Regions from separate parts of the Homo sapiens genome. Here all the other regions are linked to region 3. The links come from fine-mapping of genetic effects on gene expression. A gene starts in region 3. Each other region holds a variant in brackets. All regions are shown on one strand. Distances are between the middles of the regions.

What was found. PIP is the estimated chance that this variant, and not a neighbour inherited with it, causes the effect.
Region 1: its variant is the best candidate, but not a certain one, in a credible set for the expression of MPEG1 in whole blood (TOPMed, PIP 0.50).
Region 2: its variant is the best candidate, but not a certain one, in a credible set for the expression of MPEG1 in whole blood (TOPMed, PIP 0.57).

Annotation. Positions count from the first base shown.
Region 1 is chr11:59,244,718-59,252,756 of GRCh38, reverse strand. No RefSeq gene overlaps it. Among named protein-coding and RNA genes, the nearest start is that of MPEG1, 36 kb to the right of the region's middle. The variant T/C (reference allele first, on the strand shown) is at 4,786.
Region 2 is chr11:59,040,526-59,048,564 of GRCh38, reverse strand. All of the region lies in intron 3 of GLYATL1-AS1 (GLYATL1 antisense RNA 1), which reads left to right. It also overlaps the pseudogene GLYATL1P4. Among named protein-coding and RNA genes, the nearest start is that of GLYATL1-AS1, 14 kb to the left of the region's middle. The variant A/G (reference allele first, on the strand shown) is at 4,531.
Region 3 is chr11:59,209,397-59,217,435 of GRCh38, reverse strand. It overlaps MPEG1 (macrophage expressed 1), which reads left to right and starts at 4,509. Exons shown (of 1, transcript NM_001039396.2): 1 at 4,509-8,039. The coding sequence starts at 4,571. The coding sequence ends at 6,721. It also overlaps the pseudogene RN7SL42P. RefSeq lists an enhancer at 4,333-4,532.

The DNA.
Region 1 (8,039 bases), 35 kb before region 3:
TGCCTGGCTAATTTTTGTATTGTTTAGTGGAAACAGGGTTTTGCCATGTTAACCAGGTTGGCCTTGAACTCCAGATCTCAGGTGATCCACCTACCTCAGTTTCCCAAAGTGCTGGGATTTCAGGCGTGAGCCACAGCACCCACCCAAGAAGACCAAATTAACCAGTGAATATGAGGTGGCCTGTAAAATTGAACAAAGTATTATGTGTCTGGGTGTCTCCTAAAATGAGATACCACAATGTAAAACTTGTCAGTTTTTCAATAACCAGTAGCGGGAGGTCCATCCCAAGATGCTCCAGTAACAGAAAAGTTAACACAAAGGTGGTGGTGTGGCTAGAGGTAATGATAAAACTGCCTTTCATGGGCATAACTCTTTTAAAGTTTATATCCATGAACACTCGGTCTTCATGACAGCCTGGCTATGAGACCACATCTGATGGGCGAGGGAGTACAAGTTAGCTTGCATTTGCTGAAGATGACCTAGCTAATGATCAGCAGAGGAGGGGCCAGGCATGCCTGAGCACCAGGGTCACTCAAGGGGACAGAATGTTAACACCTTTCCACAATGGCCCTAACAAGATATTCTTTGTCTTAAATAGTTGACACTCCAGCTGGGATTATCTCTACAAATATCTTTTTTTTTTTTTTTTTTTTTTTGAGACGGAGTCTTGCTCTGTCGCCCAGGCCAGACTGCGGACTGCAGTGGCGCAATCTCGGCTCACTGCAAGCTCTCCGCTTCCCGGGTTCACGCCATTCTCCTGCCTCAGCCTCCCGAGTAGCTGGGACTACAGGCGCCCGCCACCGCGCCCGGCTAATTTTTTGTATTTTTAGTAGAGATGGGGTTTCACCTTGTTAGCCAGGATGGTCTCGATCTCCTGACCTCATGATCCACCCGCCTCGGCCTCCCAAAGTGCTGGGATTACAGGCGTGAGCCACCGCGCCCGGCCTATCTCTACAAATATCTTGGCATGAATGTCTGAAAGAGGCTGAATAAATCCACCTCTGCTCTGTTTCCAGAATTCTCTTTATCCAAAGGGTTTGCAACCTCTCAAGTCAGCCCCTTTTATCTTTGGATAAATATAAAAAAAATTTTGACTTTAAGAAAAATTCCTCCTTGAAATAAGCAGGAAGTTATTTCCAAGTAACTTCAACCTATGACTTCTCATCTGCAAAAGGAACGTTAAAATGTCCTCTCTTTCTACTTGACAAGTTGCAGAAAGAGGTGACATTCTGCTTGAAAAGGTGGGTAGAGACAAACAGCCTCAATGTCCTCACTTACCCTGTTCAGGAGGGAGACTATAGGCAGAGAGCCTATCAAAGCTGTGTTGAGCTTATGACCTACAGAACTATGACATAATACAAGTCTGTTGTTTTAAGCTGATAAATTTGTGTTAATCCATTATGCAGCAATAGAAAACTAATAATTCTCAGTGTGCATTTTATTATGCTTCTCTGTAAAGCTACTCCCTCCAAACTTTGCAGCTGATATCCTGATGAAGCTATTATTTTTTAAAAGTTCCTTTTTGGAAAAGTCATCCTATTCAATTCAGAAAACAGTCAGTGGGCATCTTTTTGATGTCAGGCACTGTGCTAAGCTCTGAAATATAAAGATGAATAAGAACTTTAACCCTAAAAGACCTCGAAGAGAAACTACACAAATAGACACGACTATTATCTGAATCAGAAAGTGCTGAGAACCATGAGGGCATAACAAGTACAAGGTATGAGAGTTCAGAAAAGGGAGAAATCATATCCTGTTAAGGGTGTCAAGAAAGGTTGTCTTGAGGTGGCTGTGGGGAAGAGGATAGGAAATCAAAAAGAGGCTCAGAAAAAATTCGAGGAAGCAGTGAATGTCCTTGTGGGAAAAGAGGGCTCATTTGAATAGCTAAGCCCACCAGCAGCCTGACTAAGCTTATGGATATCATGGGAAAAAAACAACATGGTGAGGGATGGTAGTGGGAATCACTGAGGGCTGGGATAATGAGCTTAGGAATTTGGGAGAGCCTGAGAAGCATGAAATCATGAAAACCAAGAATAGATTGGCTGGGAGTTGCAGAGTAGAACAGGCAGTTTTAGTAAAGGGAAATTTTAGAGTTTGAGATTTTGGAATTAAGCAATTTTCTATTATGGTGAGGGCTGGAATGGGGCTGCCAAGTCATATGACTGGGGTGGCATAGAATTTGAAGTTGGTGAGGCATCCCTTCAAGACAATGTACAGCCGGAGCACTAGAGGGACATCAACCTTAACATTGTCTGATGCATCTTTCTCATTGCCACCATACTTAGCACAGCACCATTAAACATAGAGGGCTAAACAAATGTCGACCTGAGAGGCATACAGAAAAATGAAACAATCACAGTGAGATAGTCAATCTAGATTTTTTTCTGCACTATGGAGCTTGAAATTTGGTCTTGAGGAGAGGCAATAAATGGGTAAGAAGGCATTCTTTGACATTACCAGCCAGGTGTAGTTGCTTTTAAATTTATTGAACTCATTGGTGAGCAACTTGAGAAGAGTGATGTCTTGAGACCTCAATCAAAGACATGATGTAGGCAGTGCACAGAAAGAACCTGGTTTTTGTTATTTTTTCTGTCATCCTGCCTCATCTGGCAGAGAAAATTTCAAGACTAATTTTAGATTTTCAGGAATAATTAATGATTCAGTAAAATAAACGGATACATCATGACCTATATCTTTGCCCCTCTTCCCTTCCCCAAACCATCAACATCCACGTAGACTGAGATGTCCTCACTTGTATGGCTTTTTATGGCATCCCATAGAATAGGTCTTTCTCACCATCTGGGAAGCAACTGGGCAGCCCTCTCCAGTGAACATTCACCAACCTAACTGACCGCCTCCAGCCACAACTGCCTCTCTTCCTTGAGATCGAGCCCTGCCAACAAAATGCCACTTTCAAGATCAAGCAAGTTCAGGGTAATTATACTTTTCCCAAGTCACATCAGCTCTGGATAATTTTCAGAGCTATTTCCAGGTCTATTTTAAGGGATAACTCGATGTCGCAATGCGTGAGAGTCAATTGGATACATGATTCCCAATGACTCCATGCTTGCCGTGTTCCTGGTCTCAGAAAGCTTTTCAAAGAAAAGCTCAGGGTGGGCTCTCTCAGCAGGGGATACCATATTATTATGGCTTCCCAGAAGAGGGCCTACCCCCGCCATCACTCCAAGCAGGATCAAAGAATCAGAGTCTCTTCAAAGAACAGACAGCAAGCACTATGGGTGGAAGGCCACAGATGCCCTACAGATGTGGTTGGGCAACTATTTTCTAGGTTTTACCAGGTTGGTTTATAAGTCTATCTGAAGACTGAGAACAGATTTCGGAGAACATCTTCTCCTATTTATTCTGGTTACAGCAAAATAAATAAATGAATGTTTATGTTACTTTCAATGAGCTAAAATAGTTATTTACAAAGACAGACAAGACCTGCTTTAAGCAAAAGTATAAAATTCTACAACTTTGTCCTCTGTGCCACCACCTCCCTCTTTAAGCCTCTCTCATCCTGATTCTGGGTTCTTTGTTCTTTCCATTACCACTTGCCTGCATTCTCATGCAGCTATCTTTTCCTGTGACTGTAGGCACTAGTTAAATTCTGGCCCTACCAATGACTGGCTGTGATCCAGTGAGCAGCCAAGGCAGAAAACCACTGCCTCAGAGTATCCCTCTCTGAAAAGCACTGAAGCCTTTGCAGCAGTCTTGAAACCTGTTCGAGTTTCCTCAATCTTGAGGATTCCTTCGTTTGACATTGCCAGCTGTTGTACCTACTCTTCCATTTTCTTCTCTCCTTCCACTGCTAAACTGGCATAACTTCCGTCAGTACCTGGCCTTGTTCAAATCCCCTCTGAGCTCCATTCCGGATATCCCTATCTGAGACCAATGAGTTCCACCCCTACCATTCTGTTGAAATTGCTCTGGGAAGACCACACCTCCCTTCCTTCTTGCCAAATCAATGGCCTTCTGTTTATATTTTCTCTCTTTGAGTTCCATGCCATGTTCATTAAGCATCACTGAGCAGTGACAGATTTGAGGATCAGGATAAGGAATTTGGATGTCATCAGGCCATCAGTGAACAAAAAAACTAATGAACGCTCTTGAGCAAAAAATGACATGATTGGATCTGTGCTTTAAGGAGGTCCATTTGCAGGTTAAGGAGGAAGAATTGAATTTGAGAGAGTCTGAAGGCGAATTATGAACAATCAGTTTAAAATTGCCTGAGTCCCCCCACAAAAAAATTCTTGGAGTTGGAGATGACATGAAAAGAGGGTTCTATTGATTCTACCGATAATGTTTCAAGTAGTATTAAAGAACAATCCATTCTGAAGGTGGGAGCAAGGGAGGCAGGAATTGTAAAGCACCATAGTCTTCTAGTTTACTATCCTCACACCCTTCAGTATGCAATAAGATATATAAAAAAAAAAAAGAGGATTCTTTAGGTTTAGGGTTTTTTTTTCCCTAAAAAAAGATTTAATTACAAACTACTGAATTGGCCATAGTAATCATTTCTCCAATATCTAGCCTCAGAGAGAGACCCCAAGAATGTAGGCATGATGCCCAGAGCTGGGAACTCGAGGAGGGAGTATAATTTGTTTAGCTTCACAGTAGGAGACTCTGGCCCTGGCAGAGGAGAAGCTGATGGGGTTTTGGGTGGAGAAGGGAAATTGTAACATTTTTCTCATCTGGATGCAAGTTGAAGAGCTGCCAACATCAACAGGGTGTGGCCACCATCTTTCACAAATCCTTGAAAGAAGCTGTGGTGTGCTGTGGGTT[T/C]ACACAATGCCCACTTCCTTCTGTTTCTTGTATGTCCTCCCCAAGACACACAAATAGACTTCAAGTATTTTCAAGATGGATATTTGATAAATCAAAAACAAAACACGTACATGAGGGAAATCTGGCCTTAGTCAAACAGCAAGAGGTTATTTTTCTTTTAAACTCCCTGCCCACTGATCTTTTGAAAGATAAGTGTTATCAGGTGATTTTTTAAAAAAATTGCCATCCATTTCTCAGGTCCTTATAGGGGCAGTGGTGTATGGAGGAATGAGGATATTATGAAATAAAGTGTTACAAGAGGCCCTATGCACACAATAAAAAATGTTAGTACATGTCAATCTCCTTTCTTCTTTCTTTTTGTTTCACAGAATCAGAATCTCAGGATTTTAAGGAACCCATAAGGTTAACTAATTCAGATTGTCTTTTAAATCTTAAATCCTGTCACTGTCAAGTGTACCATCTTCTGCTTACACACGTCCAGTGATGAGAAATTTAAAGCTTTCTGGGCTATCCATTCTACTTTTGAACTATACTATTGTTTTCCTAAAATTCTCTCTCTCTCTCTCTCTGTCTATCTTTGTCAGAAGGGTTCTGTAAAATATCTAGTGCTTTACAAAGGTAACTGCTATTGTCTGAAATTGTCACATATTTTGGAGCCAAAAACCAGTCTCAGATTGCATTGACTCCAGGGATATATTATTGGAACCACACCAGGAACTAGGAATAACATGGAAGCTGAGCCAATGGAAATCAACTGTACCCAAACAAAGCTGGCATTTTCTTTATCCCTGAGCACAGGTAGCTACCCAAGATGCCCAGAGGTGCTCTCTGGGACATGCTGTACCCCACAACCTAAACAGAACCAGTGGTAACTGGGAGAGAACTGGCGTCTCTTTCAACCCCCACCAAGTCCTTCTCTTGGAGTTGGTAGCCAATTTAACATAGCTGCATCCAAATACTTTTTATCTCTTTGTCCAAAACATGTACTATGGGTGCTGGCAGAGATGGGTTTCATTCTTTTTCCAAGCATCTGATCTTAGCCATCTAACTGAAATGTAGAGCGTAAGGAGCTGTAAATGAGTCTGCCCCTTTTCTTTCCTTGGAATCATTACTGCTGAATCATAGAGTCACAGAATGGGAGAGTGAGAAACACTCATGAAGGTGGGGAAGTTGGAGCAGGCAAGATGCTGGGACCTTCTCTCCTACTCCTCTGACTTTGACCAGAAAGCTGGACTTTATCTATTTAATATTCTGAAATTCTGCAGAAAAAAATTTGTTTTTGCATTTCTTCTATTTACAAACGGAAGTAAGGAATAAAGGAATGTGGACTAGAAAATACTGATCTAACCTAATACTTTTATTGTCCATACAAGAGATGAGGAGATTAAGATTCAGAGAAGGAAATAATTTTTCCAACAGTCACATTACAAAGAAGCAGGAGAAATAGAACTTGAACAAGCATTTTTTTTTTCATTTAACTTTCAGGCTAGTTTTTTTTTTTTATTCTAGAGTCATGGGTATATGCAAGTGTGTATCTGCAATTTTTGAAAAACCATCTAGTTTACTTGGGGTCTTCTTTAGCTACCTTTGAGACTCTAGGTTTTAGAATAAGGTAAAGCAGAAAGAGCTTCTCTTGAAGATATAAAATATAGATGCTACTTTTTATATCTGGTACCAATAAATGGTACAGATCTTTACTTCATGTCTTTTTGCTTTAGTTTTATTACCTATGATGGGAAAGGCTAGGCTTGCTGGTTTCTAGCTCTGATATTACATTATTTTAGTGTTTTAGATCTATCCCAGAATTTTCTGGACGTCTATGCAATATTTAAAATAAGGAAGGCCCAGTGGTTTTAGGATTAGGACAAGTTTACAGTATCTACATAGTAATGATTTGATAACCCTTTATTTAAGCAGTGAACAAACTATTCATTGGACACACGTAATGTGCTAGGCACTGTAACAGAGGAGGGGACAGAAATGATCAAGGTAGACAGCACATTTCTTTTCCTCATGTCAGTCTTTCTATATTTTCTTCATCATACCCTAGAAAATCATCTGAACCATAAATGCCCACCACACTTCAAATATAGTGTTCATCTGGGAATTACCGCATTAGAACTTCATTCCTCTTTATCTTGCTATGCGGCTCAACCCTGCTAAAATGTAAATAGCCCTGCTGAGGTTGAGGACAAGAGAACTCTCCACAATCATTTTTGGAATTCAGATTCCACAGAACCAGCCTTGTCTAGTCACTTGGAATGGGAGAAAGATCATATATATTGCAGGTATATCTTTTCTTTTCTTTTTTTTTGAGATGAAGTCTCACTGTGTCTCCCAGGCTGGAGTGCAGTGGCACAATCTCGGCTCACTGCAACCTCCCCCTCCTGAGTTCAAGAGATTCTCCTGCCTCAGCCTCCTGAGTAGCTGGGATTACAGTGCCCAACACCACACCTGATTAATTTTTACATATTCTTTTAGTAGAGATGGGGTTTCACCATGTTGGCCAGGCTGGTCTCAAATTCCTGACCTCAAGCGATCTGCACTCCTCAGCCTCCCAAAATGCTGGGATTACAGGCATCAGCCACCATGCTCGGCCATTGCAGTTATATCAATAACATAGTCCTATTGTAACCAGTGGAGGGTGTCCAGGTTCTTAGCATTTTGAACAAAGAATTAGACAAAATGCATAAACAAAGCAATAAAAGAAAATTACAGATTGTTGAAATGAAAGTACACTCCACAGAGTGGGAGCTGGTTAAAGTAAGTGGCTCAAGAGCGATGGTTACAGAATTTTCTGGGATTTAAATACCCTCTAGAGGTTTCCCATTGGTTACTTGGTTTATACCCTATGTAAGTGAAGAGGATGAAGTGAAATTACAAAGTTATTGATTTGGTGTATACCCTATGCAAAAGAAGAGGATGTTTCCTGACATAGCTGAAGTCAAGTTACAAAGTTATTGACTTGGATATAGAAAGTTGGGGTTTCTATTTGATTTAGTTCTAGGAAGTCCTTAGATTCCCTGACTCCAGACCCTATTCTCCTGCCTCATTTCCCCCCTGAGAGACATGATCCCCATAAACCTTTATGGGAGGCAGAGGAACCAAGGGTCTTTCTTCTGTAACTGCTTCATGCTGACTTCGGGAGCAGTCCCTACATATTGGGGATCACAGTACTCTCATCCTGCTCTGTCTGGTGGGGACAGGGTAGCTTCTTGATGGCTGGTGGTGTCTTCACCTGGAACTGTGTGGAA
Region 2 (8,039 bases), 170 kb after region 3:
AGAATATCAAAGTAAACCAGAAAATAACTAATGGAACAATTTGTAAAAATAAAAGCCATAAATACTGAAATGTAGAAAGTTCATTATTAAATGGGAAAAAGAGAAAGAGCAGAAGAGAGAGATAAACTTCTGGTAAGGCATTTAAAGGAAATAGAAGAGAAAGAGAAAAGAGAAAAAAAGGCATAGAGTATGAGCCATGAGAACGGAAACAGAAAAGAAAAAAGACTTATAATAGAAGATTATATACTCCAAGGCAACATATTCACTGATAAAGAAATGGATGTTATCCCTCAAGAATAAACTATCAAAATTGACTTTCAAAAAATAGAAAACTTCAGTGAACTAATAGAAATATCAGAAATGAAATTAAACATCTACCATTTGAAAAGTGGACAAGAATTATGGCCTCCAGCTCCATCCGTGTTGCTACAAAGGACAATATTTTATTCTTTTCTACTGCTGTGTAGTATTCCATATGAATGTATGTAGCAAGTTTTTTTTTTATCCAATGCACCTTTGATGGGGATCTGTGTTGATTCCATGTCTTTGCTATTGTGAACAGTGCAGCAATGAACATCCTAGTGCATGTGTCATTTTGGTAGGATGATTCATTTTCTTTTGGGTATTTACCTAGTAATGGCATTGCTGGGTCTAATGGCAACTCCGTTTTAAGTTCTCTAAGAAATTTCCAGACTACTTTCCACAGTGTAATAATCCTAAGCAAATTAATGCTGTAACAGAAAATCAAATATCACGTTTTCACTCATAACTGGGAGCTAAGCATTGACCATACATGGACATAAATGTGGGAACAATAGACACTATGGACTCTAGAGGGTGGAGGGAAAGGGGCTGGGTTAGAAAACTACCTATCGGGTACTATGCTCACTACCAGGGTGATGGGATCTGTCCGTACTCCAAGACTCAGCATCATGCAATATTTGCATGTAACAAATATGCACATGTACCCCCTTTATCTAAAAGGAAAGTTGAAATTACAAACTAAAAAGTAGCCAAAATTAGATTATTTTACATTTCAATTCTACATAAGACAAAACCAAACACATAATTTTAATTGTATTGTTTGGTAAAAGATGAAAAGATCCTAATGCCAAATCTGGTAAAGAAATAACAAAAAGAGAGTTACTGACCATATTGGCTTATGAATACAGATGCAAAAATTCTGAATAAAATATTCAGTAGCATATGAAAAGAATGTGAACATGAACAGTTTGTTTTAGAAAGGCCAGAATGAGTTTGATCAGAAGATCTTTTAGGGTAATAAATTAAAGGAGGAAAAAATTACATGAGTATATAAATTTCCATAAAAAGACAAAAATGAAATAACATAAAATTTACCGTTCATTCTAAATATAATTTCTATGAAAGTGGGAAAACAGGAAAGTGCTCTAAGCCTGTAAAGACAGAATTAAATGTAATTTTAAAGGTAAGTGTTTATAGCTATTTCATTAGAATCAGGAATGAGACAAGAATAGAACTATTATTATGGTTATTTGATATTGTTTTCTTAGGTTGTACATTATACAATAAGGCAAGAAACTAAAAACCCATACAAATATTGGCAAAGAAGCAGCAAATTACTTTGTTTATAGATTACAGTATTACACATTTAGAAAATATAAGAGACTTCGACAGAAAACAATGTAGTTTACCTCAGGAAAACACTAATATTTTACCAGATGGCATAGAACAGAAACTGAAAAAAGTGAGAGAAAGACCATATTTCTTGATAAAAATATTTAGTATCACAAAAATATTAATGCTTCCACAATTGTCTAAAAAACTCCTCCAATACAAATCACAATTGCAATACTTAGTTGGGGGAATTGGGGAACTGAAAAATTAGTTTTTGTTCATATAGCTCTTAAGTTTATAAGAAATAGGAAATCAAGAAAAACATTAGTGAAGGGTGATTTGCTTTATTAGATATTAATATTTACCACAAAACATTGAAATAGCATGAGAAAAGACTAAAACAAATACAGAAATAGCTACAAAAATATATAAAAATGTTACATGACAAAATAGACATTTATGTTTCAGTAGCAGAGTGACTTATTTAATAAATAGCACTAATGTAATTAGCCAGCCATAAGGTGAATAAATATAAAAGAATGTTAATGCATGCTATTCAAAAATATATTGCAAATAGAATGAAGTTTGAAATGTCAAAAGTAAAAACTCACTGTAAGACAAAATGAAAAAAACAACTTGTATGATCTTGGATTAGGAAAAATCTTCCTAATTATTAACAAAAAAACCCCCAAAGCCTCAGGAATCATAGTGAAAAAGATAATATATTTGATTACATGAAAATTAAAAATTGCTTCATGTGAAAATCTATCAATAAAATAGAAAATAATTCTCAATTGGGCAACAAATTTGTAGCATACACCTTGTGTTAGTATCCCTCATATCCAAAACACATAGAGAATTTTAAGAATGACACAAAATCCCAGTGTAAAAATGGTCAAACAATATAAACAGTTCAGAAGTAAACCCAAAATGACTGATAATCATATGAAAATATATGTTGAATATCACTAGTCAGGGAAATGCAAATTAAATCTACAATAAGATGCCACTTTTCACCCACCAGTTTGGCAGAAATTAGAAGAAGGATAACATTCAGTGCTGGTGAGAATGTGGGAAACAATTCTTCCACAAATTGCTAATGGAAATAATACTGTGGAATCCTTTGGGAAGGTAGTCTGGCAGTGCCTACTTAGGATAAGAGAAGCTCTTACTTGGACGTATCCCTTTTGGAAACCAATTGCATTGAGAAAAGTTTCCAGGATGTAAAGACATGTATACAAGGATGTTTACTGAAGCATTGTTTGTAATGGCAAAGAAGTATGAACAATTTGAACCCAACAGGAGGAGAATGACTGACTAGCATTGCATTGACTCTATGGAACACCACAGTTACTAAAACGAAAACGTTAGTGCTGTATTGATTCACTCAAAGCAATGTCCATATGTCAAAGGCAAATTAAAAAGTGATGACAGTTTGTGTGTTAATATGGGCAAGGACACTGATTACCCCAAAGGGTAGGAATGGAGGAGAGGAGGGCAAAGGAGGTGAGAGGTTATTAACTTCTTAAAATCATATTGGATTTTTCCACTTGTATAATCAGCATATATTATCTTTCTGATTAAAAACCAAGAAAGAAAAAATTAATTTTTTTCTAGAGAAATTCTCCTGCATCTCACCTTAAAAAGGTCTTCTTCAAAATTGCATCGATTTTCAATACTGAAAGAAACGTGGTATACTATGGAATCAGACTAGGTGAATGTATTTCCAAGTAAATTGCAGCATATTTCATTCTTTCCATTTTTTTGGTCATGTATGTGTGGCATGGAACTTTTATATTTTAATATTTTTGTTTACTGACTCACTTTATAAAAACTAGCCTTGTTCAAAGCAATGCATATATGAAGTTACAGCTTGATGGTGCAGTTACATTGTTAAAATACACATAGTAACTACAAAGTTACTGAAGTAAAAAGAACTATTTGACCTCATACAGTTATTTAGCATATCACACTTTGAAGAAATTGGACCATGGATCAAATAAACTAAGCATTAATCTTCCATCTGAAATTGTCAGGAAACCTTGAGATCAAAAGAACATCCCTGGGAAGGTGTTAGGCTCAGCTTATTATTATGTGGGGGCTCAGCGTCTATACCCACCTGAAGCTGGGCTGTCCATGAGGCTTCAGTTCACTAACCAGATGTGCATGAAACAGATACAAAAAGGGGAAGCCTTTAGGGCCAAAAAATAGACCTAGGTTTGTATTACTATTTCAGCTTAATCGTGTATACCTTGTGTTTCCTCGGCCAACAATGGCTAATTATGGTAAATACTATTTAGAATTATGTGCTATGTACTAAGTGTTTGACATATGGTATCTCATTTAAACCTTCTGTGATCCTCTGAAGAGTGTCCTCCAATTTTTCCCATTTTAACAGATGATAAAACTCACAGAAGGGCCTATGGTTATATAGCTAGTAAAAGTGGCAGAGTCCGTTGAACTTGAATTCAGATTGGGGAATGCTTTAACAGTTGGTATCCAGCAGCTACAGGACTTAATATTTCTCAGTGTTGTTTCCTCATCTCTAAATTGAAGATATTAAAGCTCACTTTGTAAAATTGTTCTGATGATGACAGTCACTAATGAGTGAGGTGCTTCCAAACAGTTGACACACAGTAATTGTGTGCCCCTTCCCTGGTTCCTGAGAAGCAACTTTTATTTTTTTATGACAGGGTCTCACTCTGTTGGCCAGGCTAGAGTAGAGTGGTGTGATCTTGGCTCACTGCAGCCTCAACCTTCTGGGGCTCAAGCCATCCTCCCATCTCCATCTCCTGAGCATCTAGGAGTATAGGCATGTACCACCATGCACTGCTAATTTTGTTTATTTTTTTGTAGAGATGAGGTCTCACTATGTTGCACAGGCAGGTCCCAAACTCCTGGCCTCAAGCGATCCTCCTGCCTTGGCCTCCCAAA[A/G]TGCTGGGATTACAGGTAAAAGACACCATGCCTGGCCATGAGAGGTAATTTTGCTGGTAGACTACTGCCTTGGTTTTTGTTTCTAAATCACTGTTCTGATATCTCAGACACACAACTTTCCCTGTAAATTGGCCTCCATTCAGCCCCTGCAGGTGACCCCTGCCACCTCAAAGGGCCCTTAATCTGTGAGTGTCAGCCTTGTCCTTTTCCTCCCCTTCCCCCTTGAACCCCTTTCCCAAATTAGTCTTATGCTTACGGGAAGAGTGTTAACATGTGGCATTCATGCAAGCTGCTCATTAACGAAGGAGTGTTTTAAAATACTCACATTTCCTTTCACCCTATGAAAGCAGCCATGGTGTCTGAATTGGACAGTTCCTCAGGCCCTTTGGACCTGCCTGGCTCCACCAGTCCCTGTCTGTGTGCCTACCTGTTTTTGAGGTCGGATAATAACCATCTGATACCCGGGCCAGGAGTCCACCAACACCTCCATGTTGAAGGGGTTCCCGTGATTGATGTGAAACAGAGAGCCATACACCTGAAGGAGGGATGAAAGGGAATAGGAGAGGTTGAGATCCCCAGAGATGGGGGTCTGTATGTGAAGAGGAAGAGAAAAATGGAAGTCAGGAGACAGCACTGGGACCAAGTTGGTGATAGTGTGATGAGCAGCATCTCCAGGACCATACTGATGGACGTGAAGTCACCAGCAAACAGGCAGAACTCCCAGGGAGGTGTCCTTGTGATACCACAGAGCTACTGTGCAGTAGCTGGGCACTTGACAATGCACTTAGCACTTATATTGTATGGATTCATTCAGTGTCCACAACAACTTTAATAGGTGGCTACTAATATTATTCCCATTTTATTAATGAAAAGACCAAAGATAAAGGCATAGAAAGCTAAAGACACAGGCACAATGATATCTGACTAAAAAATGGCAGCCTTGCAATGCATATTTATTGAATCTGGCCCCAAACCGATGTTCGTAGCCACCATTCTTCACCACCTCTCCAAATGAGTGATAAAATCTGCAGAGTCGGCCTAGTTGCCTGTTGCCGAGGAGAAGCAGCAGCTCTTAACATGCCTCCTTTGTCCCCAACCCCATCCTGTTTCCCAGCTCCAACCCTCTGCACAAAGTCAGGAAGGACGAGATTCTTGGGCCTGTTATTTTCTCATCCTCAACACCCCTACTCCCATACCCCAACCTCCCACTGTTCCTTCACCTTCAGGGACTCAGGAATGCTCCTTGCTAAAGATTTGAATAGGGCCAGCAGCTGCTCAGAATTATTCAATAGAATCATTTTGTGGGATGCTTCAGTCCTCGAGCCCTTCAAGAAAAAACTCTGAAGAGAAGTGAAGGGAAAATGTTAAAGGACCAGATGAAATTAAAATGCACTTTACACATCTCCATTCAAGTAACACTCATGATGTAGGTACTGTTAGTATCGTCTTCATTTTGAATACGCCAAAGCTTAGAGAGACTAAATAAATTTCTCAAGTTCTTACAGGGATAAATGACAGAGTCCTATCCAAAACCCATGCATTTCCTCTCTGGTGGAATGAATTAAAAGTGAATATTAAGAGTTCTGTGAGCCTCCCACATGCCTGTAGCAGAACACTCCACCACCACCATCATAATGTTTCTTTTATTTTGGTCATCAGATGCCTGAAGAGTCTTCTTTCTTCTGGAATAGGAAATATCTAAGAACAGTTGTGACTGGAAACCTCAGAGCAGGAGTTGGCAAAGATTTTCTTTAGTTTCTTAGGGCCAAATATTTCAGATCTATAACCATTTTGAAATTTTTCCCAGTTTCATTACAAAAATAAGAAAAAAGCATAGAAAATTTGGAAACATATCTGTAAATTTCCTTTGAAATAACACTTGGAATTCTTTTTTTTTTTTTTTTTTTTTTTTTTTTTGAGACGGAGTCTCGCTCTGTCGCCCAGGTCGGACTGCGGACTGCAGTGGCGCAATCTCGGCTCACTGCAAGCTCCGCTTCCCGGGTTCACGCCATTCTCCTGCCTCAGCCTCCCGAGTAGCTGGGACTACAGGCGCCCGCCACCGCGCCCGGCTAATTTTTTGTATTTTTAGTAGAGACGGGGTTTCACCTTGTTAGCCAGGATGGTCTCGATCTCCTGACCTCATGATCCACCCGCCTCGGCCTCCCAAAGTGCTGGGATTACAGGCGTGAGCCACCGCGCCCGGCCTAACACTTGGAATTCTTACAAATGTGCCAAAGAGTATAACAGTTGACATTCTATAGTGCCAAACCGGTTCTTAGCCAAAAGGGACTTTACTGAGAGCCCTCATTTTTAAATGTAGTTCAATGCATTGTTTTTCATTTGGAATGTTCCACTCTAAGTTATCTTTAGTAAGATTTTGCCATTTGTGTAAGACTTCTCTGCCTTCCAGTCCTAATGTATAAGCCAGAAAGAACTCAGTTTTTCAGAAATTAAGGATTCCAGTTTTACATAAAATACTGACTTTACTCTCAGGTTCTTTTGATTAACTTAACCAATGAATTTTCCTATCTAGGTACACAAGAAAAATGAAACAAATGGGTAGAACACAAAAATCCCTGTGAATTTCCCAAAGCCGAATTTTATGACTGCTGCGACATTACTGCTTACTACCACTTCCTTTATGACCCAGTCAGCTGTTAGTGGCCTCTACTGTTAGTGGCCTCTAAGTGGATCCAAGCCAGTTAATTCCCAGATCAAATTCATTCCTAGACCCAGTCCATTTTCTGTTGCAACTCCAAAACCAGTTTGGATCACAAATTTGCACAAGGAAACTCAGAGAGCTCAAAACACAAATGTGTGAAGCTCCAAAATGCAAGAGGGAGCTTACCTTTGATCCTCAGCTGCTCTGAGAGATCAGTGGACACAAGTGGATCCCGCAGGTACCTTCTGTGTTTACTCAGTGCTCCTGGGGATACTAGAAGCTCCACTTCAGATTCTGCTTCTGACACAATCTGATAAAATAAAAACTTCAGCTGACTTAAATTTAAAGGAGATTAGTTGAGCAATGAACAATTCATCGATCCAGCAGCCTTCAGAATCACAGCAGATTCACAGAGTTTCCAGGGGTGCCTTGTGGTCAAAACAAATTTATAGGGAAAAAAAGTTAAAGTGACATCCAGGAACCGGAAATGAGTTACAGAAACAGTGAGATTTCTGTCACCTGGGCGTTTGCCTTATTTAAACACAGTTTGAGCATTCAGCAGTCTATGAGTGGTGATGTAAGGCTGCTGGGACTGGCCAGCATTCAAATATTGTTACAGGTGCAGACTCCTAAATTAGGTTTTCAATTTTGTCTATTAAGCTAGGTTACTCTACACCCACAAGGGCTCAAATGAAGCACAGAGTCCTTCTCAGACCATATTTAGTTTGCTTTAACACTCTGTAGCAAAATTCATTGAAAGGATTGTCTACAAATGCTATTTCCAATCCTCCCCCTAATCTTATCTAACTGGGTTTTTGCTGCTACCATTTTACTGAAACATTTTTTA
Region 3 (8,039 bases):
GGTGGAAAGAAGAGCCTCTGAGGGGAAGAAGCTGACAACGCAACTCTTAAAACGTCAGGCTAGGAATCAACTGTTCAGAAAGGAAAATACTGCCACTTTGTTCACTGATACTTTCCAGATTTTCCATAACAAAGTTTACTGCAAAGTCTTTAAAAGCCATAGTTCTCTGATCTACTTAGTAATTATTTAACCATCAGTTTTCACACTGGTTTCCTAGATTCCTGCTGAAAGGGAATTGTCCCAGCAAATGCAACTAGACTTTCCTCCCCATTTTAGACCACAGGTGAAATGCAGAAGTAGGAAACACCTGGATTAGTTCCAAGCCCACACAGAAGCGAACCTCAGATATGAATCACGGTTTGGCGCTGAATGAGATGGTGTCAGAAGGTTGCACGGGATCAAACAGAGAAAGAAAGCAGATGTGGGACTTCCTTCTTGCCTCTTTTTGGAGGAAGTGAAATCGCCGTTCAGCAACGCAGATGCAAAGTTTTTGTAGACAAGATGCCTCTTTCTTTTAGAGATCAGTGTTAGCCACAGGCCATTACTCCTCAAGTGTGGCCATCTGGGGAGGTTATGTGACTGCATATGCATTCCAGTACAAGAAAAAGCAAAGGAAATTTCTGGTGAACAGAATAAAACAGAAAAGTTGTGGGTAAAATGCACTGGTCACCACTTCCTCATATGTGACTGTTATGAGCAGTTCTTCTGCTCCTGGTATGTAAAATTAAGTTAAGCCAAATTTCCCATCATTTGCACTTCTCCTTTCACTGTTTCCCAGAGAACTGGAAAGAGAACTTCCTTGAGCACAGCAGTCACATAATCCATAGGCTTTGGGTCATTTCAGGAATATAAAAATTCCAGAACTAAGTTTTTTTGTTTGTTTGTTTGTTTGTGTTTTTGACAGTCTCACTCTGTCTCGCAGGCTGGAGTGCAGTGGCACGATCTCGGCTCACTGCAGCCTCGAACTCTTGGGTTCAAGCAATTCTCCTGCCTCAGCCTCCCAAGTAGCTGGGATTACAGTTGTGTGTCACCACTACATCTGGCTAATTTTTTTGTATTTTTAGTAGAGATGTGGTTTCTCCATGTTGGCCAGGCTGGTCTTGAACTCCCGGCCTCAAGTGATCCATCCACCTCGGATTCCCAAAGTGCTGGGATTACAGGCATGAGCCACCCTGCCTGGCCTGTTTCTTTTGTTTTTTTTTTACATGGTTGTGCATTGGTTATTTTCCTGAGCACAAAAGTGATGATTACCCAATACCCATCAGTGTTTGGTACTTAATAGGCTCTGAATACAAATTTCTCGAGTTAATAAATACATGCTCATTGTTGAAAACTCAAAAAACACAGAAAAGAGGAAAAAATTAAAATAATTTAGAAAAACCTCTCAACCAGATGTAATTACTGTCTATGCATTGGCGTACATCCCTCTAGTTATGTACATAGTTGGGGTCATGCTGAATGTTTATCATTCTTTTTTTTCATAACATTATTGTCAGAGATATTTGAACCAGAATAACTCCATCTCGAATAGGGGCTGGGTAAAAGAAGGCTGGGCTGCATTCCCAGAGGGTTAAGTATTCTAAGTCATGGGATGAGATAGAAGATTGGCATAAGATACAGATACAGATCACAAAGATCTTTCTGATAAAAGAGCATGCAGTAAAGAAGGCAGCCAAAACCCACCAAAACTAAGATGGCGACAAGAGTGAACTCTGGTCATCCTCATTGTTCATTATACACTAATTGTAGTGCATTCGCATGCTAAAAGATGTTTCCACCAGTGCCATGACTGCCAATTTCCAGAAGTTACCCTGTATAGTCTAAAAAGGAGAGGAACCCTTAGTTCTGGGAATTGCCCACCTCTTTCCCAGAAAACTCATGATTAATCCACCCCTTGTTTAGCATATAATTAAGAAATAATGATAAGTATCCTTAATCAAGCAGCACATACTTCTGCTCTGCCTATGGAGTAGCCATTCTTTTGTTTCTTTACTTCTCTAATAAACTTACTTTCACCTTACTCTGTGGACTTGCCCTGGTCCTTCTTGCACAAAGTCCAAGAACTCTCTCTTGAGGTCTGCATTGGGAACCCTTTCCAGTAACATTATGGCATAAGAATTTCTCATGTTATTAAAATAGTTTTAAATAATTGTGATGGCTATACAATATTTTGTCTTATGGGTACAATGTAATTTTACCGTTGTTGGCTCTTTCTGCTATTTTCAATTTTTTTTTCCTATGATAAAATGAAGACAAAGTCTATAGAATAAAAAATACAGTGACTAGACGTCTGGAGACATAGGAACACCTGAATATAGAATTGTCTGTATTAACCTTGCTTGTATTCTCATTTCAGGAGAGTGAGCTCTCAACAGGGTCTACTAAAGAGAAAGCAGAGGGTAACAAATTGTCAGCTTGTCTCCAAAGCAGTGTGAGAGTATTCTAATTTTGATGAACCATCCCAGAAATAGTTTGAAGAGAAGTATGTAGGTATTTCAACAGACTTATTGGAAGTACTCAAGGGCATTCAACTCTCATTTTTCTAATTCTGGGATCATGCTGCTGAGGTATAAATTTATGGCTAACTGATTTATAAATTAACTAGAACATCCTGTGCAAAGATTTGGTTCTTTAGCCAAATACAGACTAGGCACTGGTTCATAAATTAATCCCTCTTAGGTGGCTGGTGTCACTTCCCAGAAGCATGATAACTGTGGCACAAATAGAACCAGAATGGCCAGGTGTGGTGGTGCATGACTGCAGTCCCAGATTCCTGGGAAGCTGATGTGGGAGGATTGCTTGAATCCATGAGTTCTGGGCTGTAGTGTGCTATGCCAGTTGGGTGTCTGCACTAAGCTCAGCATCAATATGGTGGCCTCCTTGGAGCAAATCACCAGGTTGCCTAAGGAGGGCTAAACGGGTCCAGGTTGGAAATGGAGCAGGTCAAAACTCCTATGCTGATTAGTAGTGGGACCATGCCTGTGAATAGCTACTGCACTCAAGCCTGGGCAATAAGCAAGACCCTGTCTTGGAAAAAAAAATATACCCGGAATGCAGTATTTCTAGATTTATAGAACACCATCATGGTTTTGATAATAACTGGTGAAGCCCAGCCTGGGAAGCAAGATAACTAGCCTCATTCTTTCTAAAAACACTTCTTTGCTGCATTAATAACCAACAGAGGAATTCAACTCCTTGGAACCTTCCTTCCAGGATGCATACAGGTGATGGTGTAGTGATACCTGTGAATTGCAACATGACTTTTTCAGTCTCAGTACTGTATCTAGTTCATGGTATAATCTTGGGAATGTTAAGGATGCAACTGGGAGCTTCACTAAGTCCTCTGGATTCCCTGGCTACCACTAAGCATACTAAGACATAGCCTAATTGTCCCAAAGAATTAACAGAGTTGGGTTTCAATCAAACCTGTCACCATTGTTTTAAATTATGGGCTCTAATAGAGCTGGCATTGGAACTTGAAAAGAAACTCATGTAATTATATTCTTCTAATGATATAGCAAATGAATTTTTGCTTTTAGAAAAAATATTGGGTAGTGAAGAGCCACATTCTTTTTTATCCACCTAAACTGATTACACACACTTAGCAATGGAACAAAAAATTAAAGGTATAACAGGTACCAACTTCATACAAAATGCACACACACAGAGGATATATAAATGTGTGTACACATACACATATGTTCCTTGGCCCCTGTCTGCTGTTGATAAATCAAAATCTAGATAATAGTGTGGTTTTGTCTTGAACATTTCTATCTGAATGAAAACAACACAGTGTAGGAGTTCCTTGCCCTCGCTTTGAATGCTTAGGACAATGCAAATTGGGGTTTCCCAGCATATTGCAACCGAATCCTCTTCAGGCCCTGTCAGCTGTGCTCCAGACAATGCCATCCCCAAAGACAGAATTGCTATGGTTCATAACAGTGAAACCCACAGGACAAGTGTCCAAGAGTTTCACTCCTTTCTTTTGTGGAAACAGCCTCCACCCTCAGGCAAAGAGGAAACCCAGGGTTGGCCTTGACTAACAGCTTGCATAGGTATGGTGGAGCCAGGGTGTTTCAGTAAGGGTGGTGTGGTCATTTGCCTCTGCATTTATAGTAAAAGAAAACTGATAATGGAGTCCCAAGAGACAGCAGTCAGGGAAAATATGAAACATCAAGTCCAAGAGAATGAGCAAAAAGCAAAGCCAAACTTTCTGGTGGAGGAAGCAGTAGGGTGTGGGGTCGGGATTTTTTTCTAAGTGCACACCCCTGCAGCAGAGTAACCAGCCAGAGCTGGGGGAAAAATTAGGATAGCTACCTGTTAGGCATGTAGGGGTGTGTTTGCATGTTTAGTACGGCATAAATTCTTCAAAGACCTGATGGTCTTTAATATTCCAACCAACTCTCGTTTCCCCATTTTGTCATTAAATTAGCTTAAAGAGGAACTTGTAGCTTTTAGAGAACTCATGAGTTTTCCGCTTCATCATCTGCTTCTGTTTTCTCCATCTTAGTTTGCCCAAAGCTTGCTGGCCGCTGTGTAGGGCTGGTGAGTGGCTGGGGCTGTCTGAGCCATGAACAACTTCAGGGCCACCATCCTCTTCTGGGCAGCGGCAGCATGGGCTAAATCAGGCAAGCCTTCGGGAGAGATGGACGAAGTTGGAGTTCAAAAATGCAAGAATGCCTTGAAACTACCTGTCCTGGAAGTCCTACCTGGAGGGGGCTGGGACAATCTGCGGAATGTGGACATGGGACGAGTTATGGAATTGACTTACTCCAACTGCAGGACAACAGAGGATGGACAGTATATCATCCCTGATGAAATCTTCACCATTCCCCAGAAACAGAGCAACCTGGAGATGAACTCAGAAATCCTGGAATCCTGGGCAAATTACCAGAGTAGCACCTCCTACTCCATCAACACAGAACTCTCTCTTTTTTCCAAAGTCAATGGCAAGTTTTCCACTGAGTTCCAGAGGATGAAGACCCTCCAAGTGAAGGACCAAGCTATAACTACCCGAGTTCAGGTAAGAAACCTCGTCTACACAGTCAAAATCAACCCAACTTTAGAGCTAAGCTCAGGTTTTAGGAAGGAACTCCTTGACATCTCTGACCGTCTAGAGAACAACCAGACGAGGATGGCCACCTACCTGGCAGAACTCCTGGTGCTCAACTATGGCACCCACGTCACCACCAGTGTCGACGCTGGGGCTGCTCTTATTCAGGAGGACCACCTCAGGGCCTCCTTCCTCCAAGACAGCCAGAGCAGTCGTAGTGCCGTGACCGCCTCTGCTGGACTTGCCTTTCAAAACACCGTGAACTTCAAATTTGAGGAAAACTATACCTCGCAGAATGTCCTCACCAAGAGCTACCTCTCAAACCGAACCAACTCCAGGGTGCAGAGCATTGGAGGGGTTCCTTTTTACCCAGGCATCACCCTCCAGGCCTGGCAGCAGGGTATCACCAACCACCTGGTGGCCATCGACCGCTCTGGCCTGCCGCTGCATTTCTTCATCAACCCCAACATGCTACCTGACTTGCCAGGCCCCCTGGTGAAGAAGGTGTCAAAGACAGTGGAAACTGCTGTGAAGCGCTATTATACATTCAACACCTACCCTGGCTGCACAGATCTCAATTCTCCCAACTTCAATTTTCAGGCCAACACGGATGATGGCTCCTGCGAGGGGAAAATGACCAACTTCTCTTTCGGTGGGGTTTATCAGGAATGCACTCAGCTCTCAGGGAATAGGGATGTCCTCCTCTGCCAAAAGTTGGAGCAGAAGAATCCACTCACTGGTGATTTCTCCTGCCCCTCTGGCTACTCCCCGGTGCACCTGTTATCCCAGATCCACGAGGAGGGTTACAACCACCTGGAGTGTCATCGAAAGTGCACTCTCCTCGTCTTCTGCAAGACCGTGTGTGAAGATGTGTTCCAGGTGGCAAAAGCTGAATTTAGGGCTTTTTGGTGTGTGGCCAGCAGCCAAGTACCTGAAAACTCAGGACTGCTTTTTGGGGGCCTCTTCAGCAGCAAGAGCATAAACCCCATGACAAATGCACAGTCATGCCCAGCCGGCTACTTTCCACTGAGACTCTTTGAAAACCTCAAGGTATGTGTTTCTCAGGACTATGAGTTGGGAAGCAGGTTTGCGGTCCCCTTTGGCGGGTTCTTTAGCTGCACAGTTGGGAACCCCCTGGTAGATCCTGCTATATCCAGAGATTTAGGGGCACCGTCTCTGAAAAAGTGCCCCGGGGGCTTCAGCCAGCACCCAGCCCTCATCAGCGATGGATGCCAAGTGTCCTATTGCGTCAAATCCGGGCTCTTCACAGGAGGGTCCCTGCCCCCTGCCAGGCTCCCACCTTTCACCCGGCCACCCCTCATGAGTCAGGCTGCCACCAATACTGTCATAGTGACCAATTCTGAGAATGCGAGATCCTGGATTAAAGACTCCCAGACCCACCAGTGGAGGCTGGGAGAACCGATAGAGCTGCGGAGGGCCATGAATGTCATCCATGGGGATGGTGGTGGTCTGTCAGGAGGGGCTGCAGCTGGGGTCACAGTGGGGGTCACCACCATTCTGGCTGTTGTTATCACCTTGGCCATCTACGGCACCCGGAAGTTCAAGAAGAAAGCATATCAGGCAATTGAGGAAAGGCAGAGTTTGGTTCCAGGCACTGCAGCAACTGGAGACACCACTTACCAAGAGCAGGGGCAGAGTCCAGCTTAAATCTCTCCCCGAAAATGGTTTCTCTCATCTCCAGTGTGGTCATTGCTGACCACTCTGTTTTCCTAAGCATTGAAATGGCAAGTGCAACCAAAAGTAGGTATATTCGTGACTTCTTGTTTAGGTCTCTGGGCCAGGAAATTCATACTGTTACATGGATAAGGTTGGGATTGGGGAGAGGGAACAGTTGGGACTAGAAGCAAAAGTGATTCTGGGACTAAAATAGGAAGCAGATGTCCTTTCCCAATGTGTGTTGCTGTCTTCACCTGAATGCATTTGTGTAAAAATAGCGGAGGGACAATGTGAACATTTGTATTTGGAAGCTATGAATTTACTCTGAAGTTTGCAGTTGTTTCCAATTTGTGAGCTCTAAGAGTTTCTGCCTGTAAGAACTACTCTCCTTTTATTTTGATTTTTAAAAACCTGTCTGAATTTCACACTCTTAGAGCCTGGAAGAGCCCTGAAAAGACACAAGTCTTGCCTGGCTACTGCTTTTTAACTTTGAGGGCTCTATGTTGACAGACTGTTATCTCCTCTGGGTGACCTCAAACATCTGAAAAGAAAGATGTTGCCTGTGCCAATTCCACTTTTTCCAGCTGCCCCTTGATGAACACTCCCTTATACCAGACCACTCTTGGACTTCTGACTGGTGTCATCAAGTCCTCAGAAAATATTTTAAGTTATTTTAAGTTATTAAGGAAGGGATGATTTGGAGACAAGGAGTAATGAAAGATGGGTAAAAACTGGAAAAGATTCTGGTGCTAAGTACTACCCCTTCATCTTCCATGGATGGTCATTACCTTTCCTGTCCTCCTGTTATATGAACACACACACACACACACACACACACACACACACACACGCACACACATACCACATTTCAATAAGTCTTCATTGTTCTGGGTCCTTACCTTTCCTGTCCTCCTGTTATATGAACACACACACACACACACACACACACACACACGCACACCACATTTCAATGTCTGCATGGTTCTGGGGGTAACAAAGGCAAGAAGTTAAAGTAAGACCACATTTGAGTATTACTTACTCTGTAGAATCAAAACAGAGTAGTTAACACCAATTATGCAAACTACTTTTTTTTCCAGCAGAAAGGGAGCTGACATGATCAAATCCATGTTTTCAAATGAACTGAAAAAGGCATCCAGCACCACTTATAACACATTTATTTCAGTTCCAGGCTGACAGCCCTGGGGCATCTAGCAGGATGCATAATTGTCATCTGGTGAGAGTTGGGACTTTGCTCAATTTTAATACCAATCTCTCCTGATTGTAATTACCTCCACTACTTTCATGATCC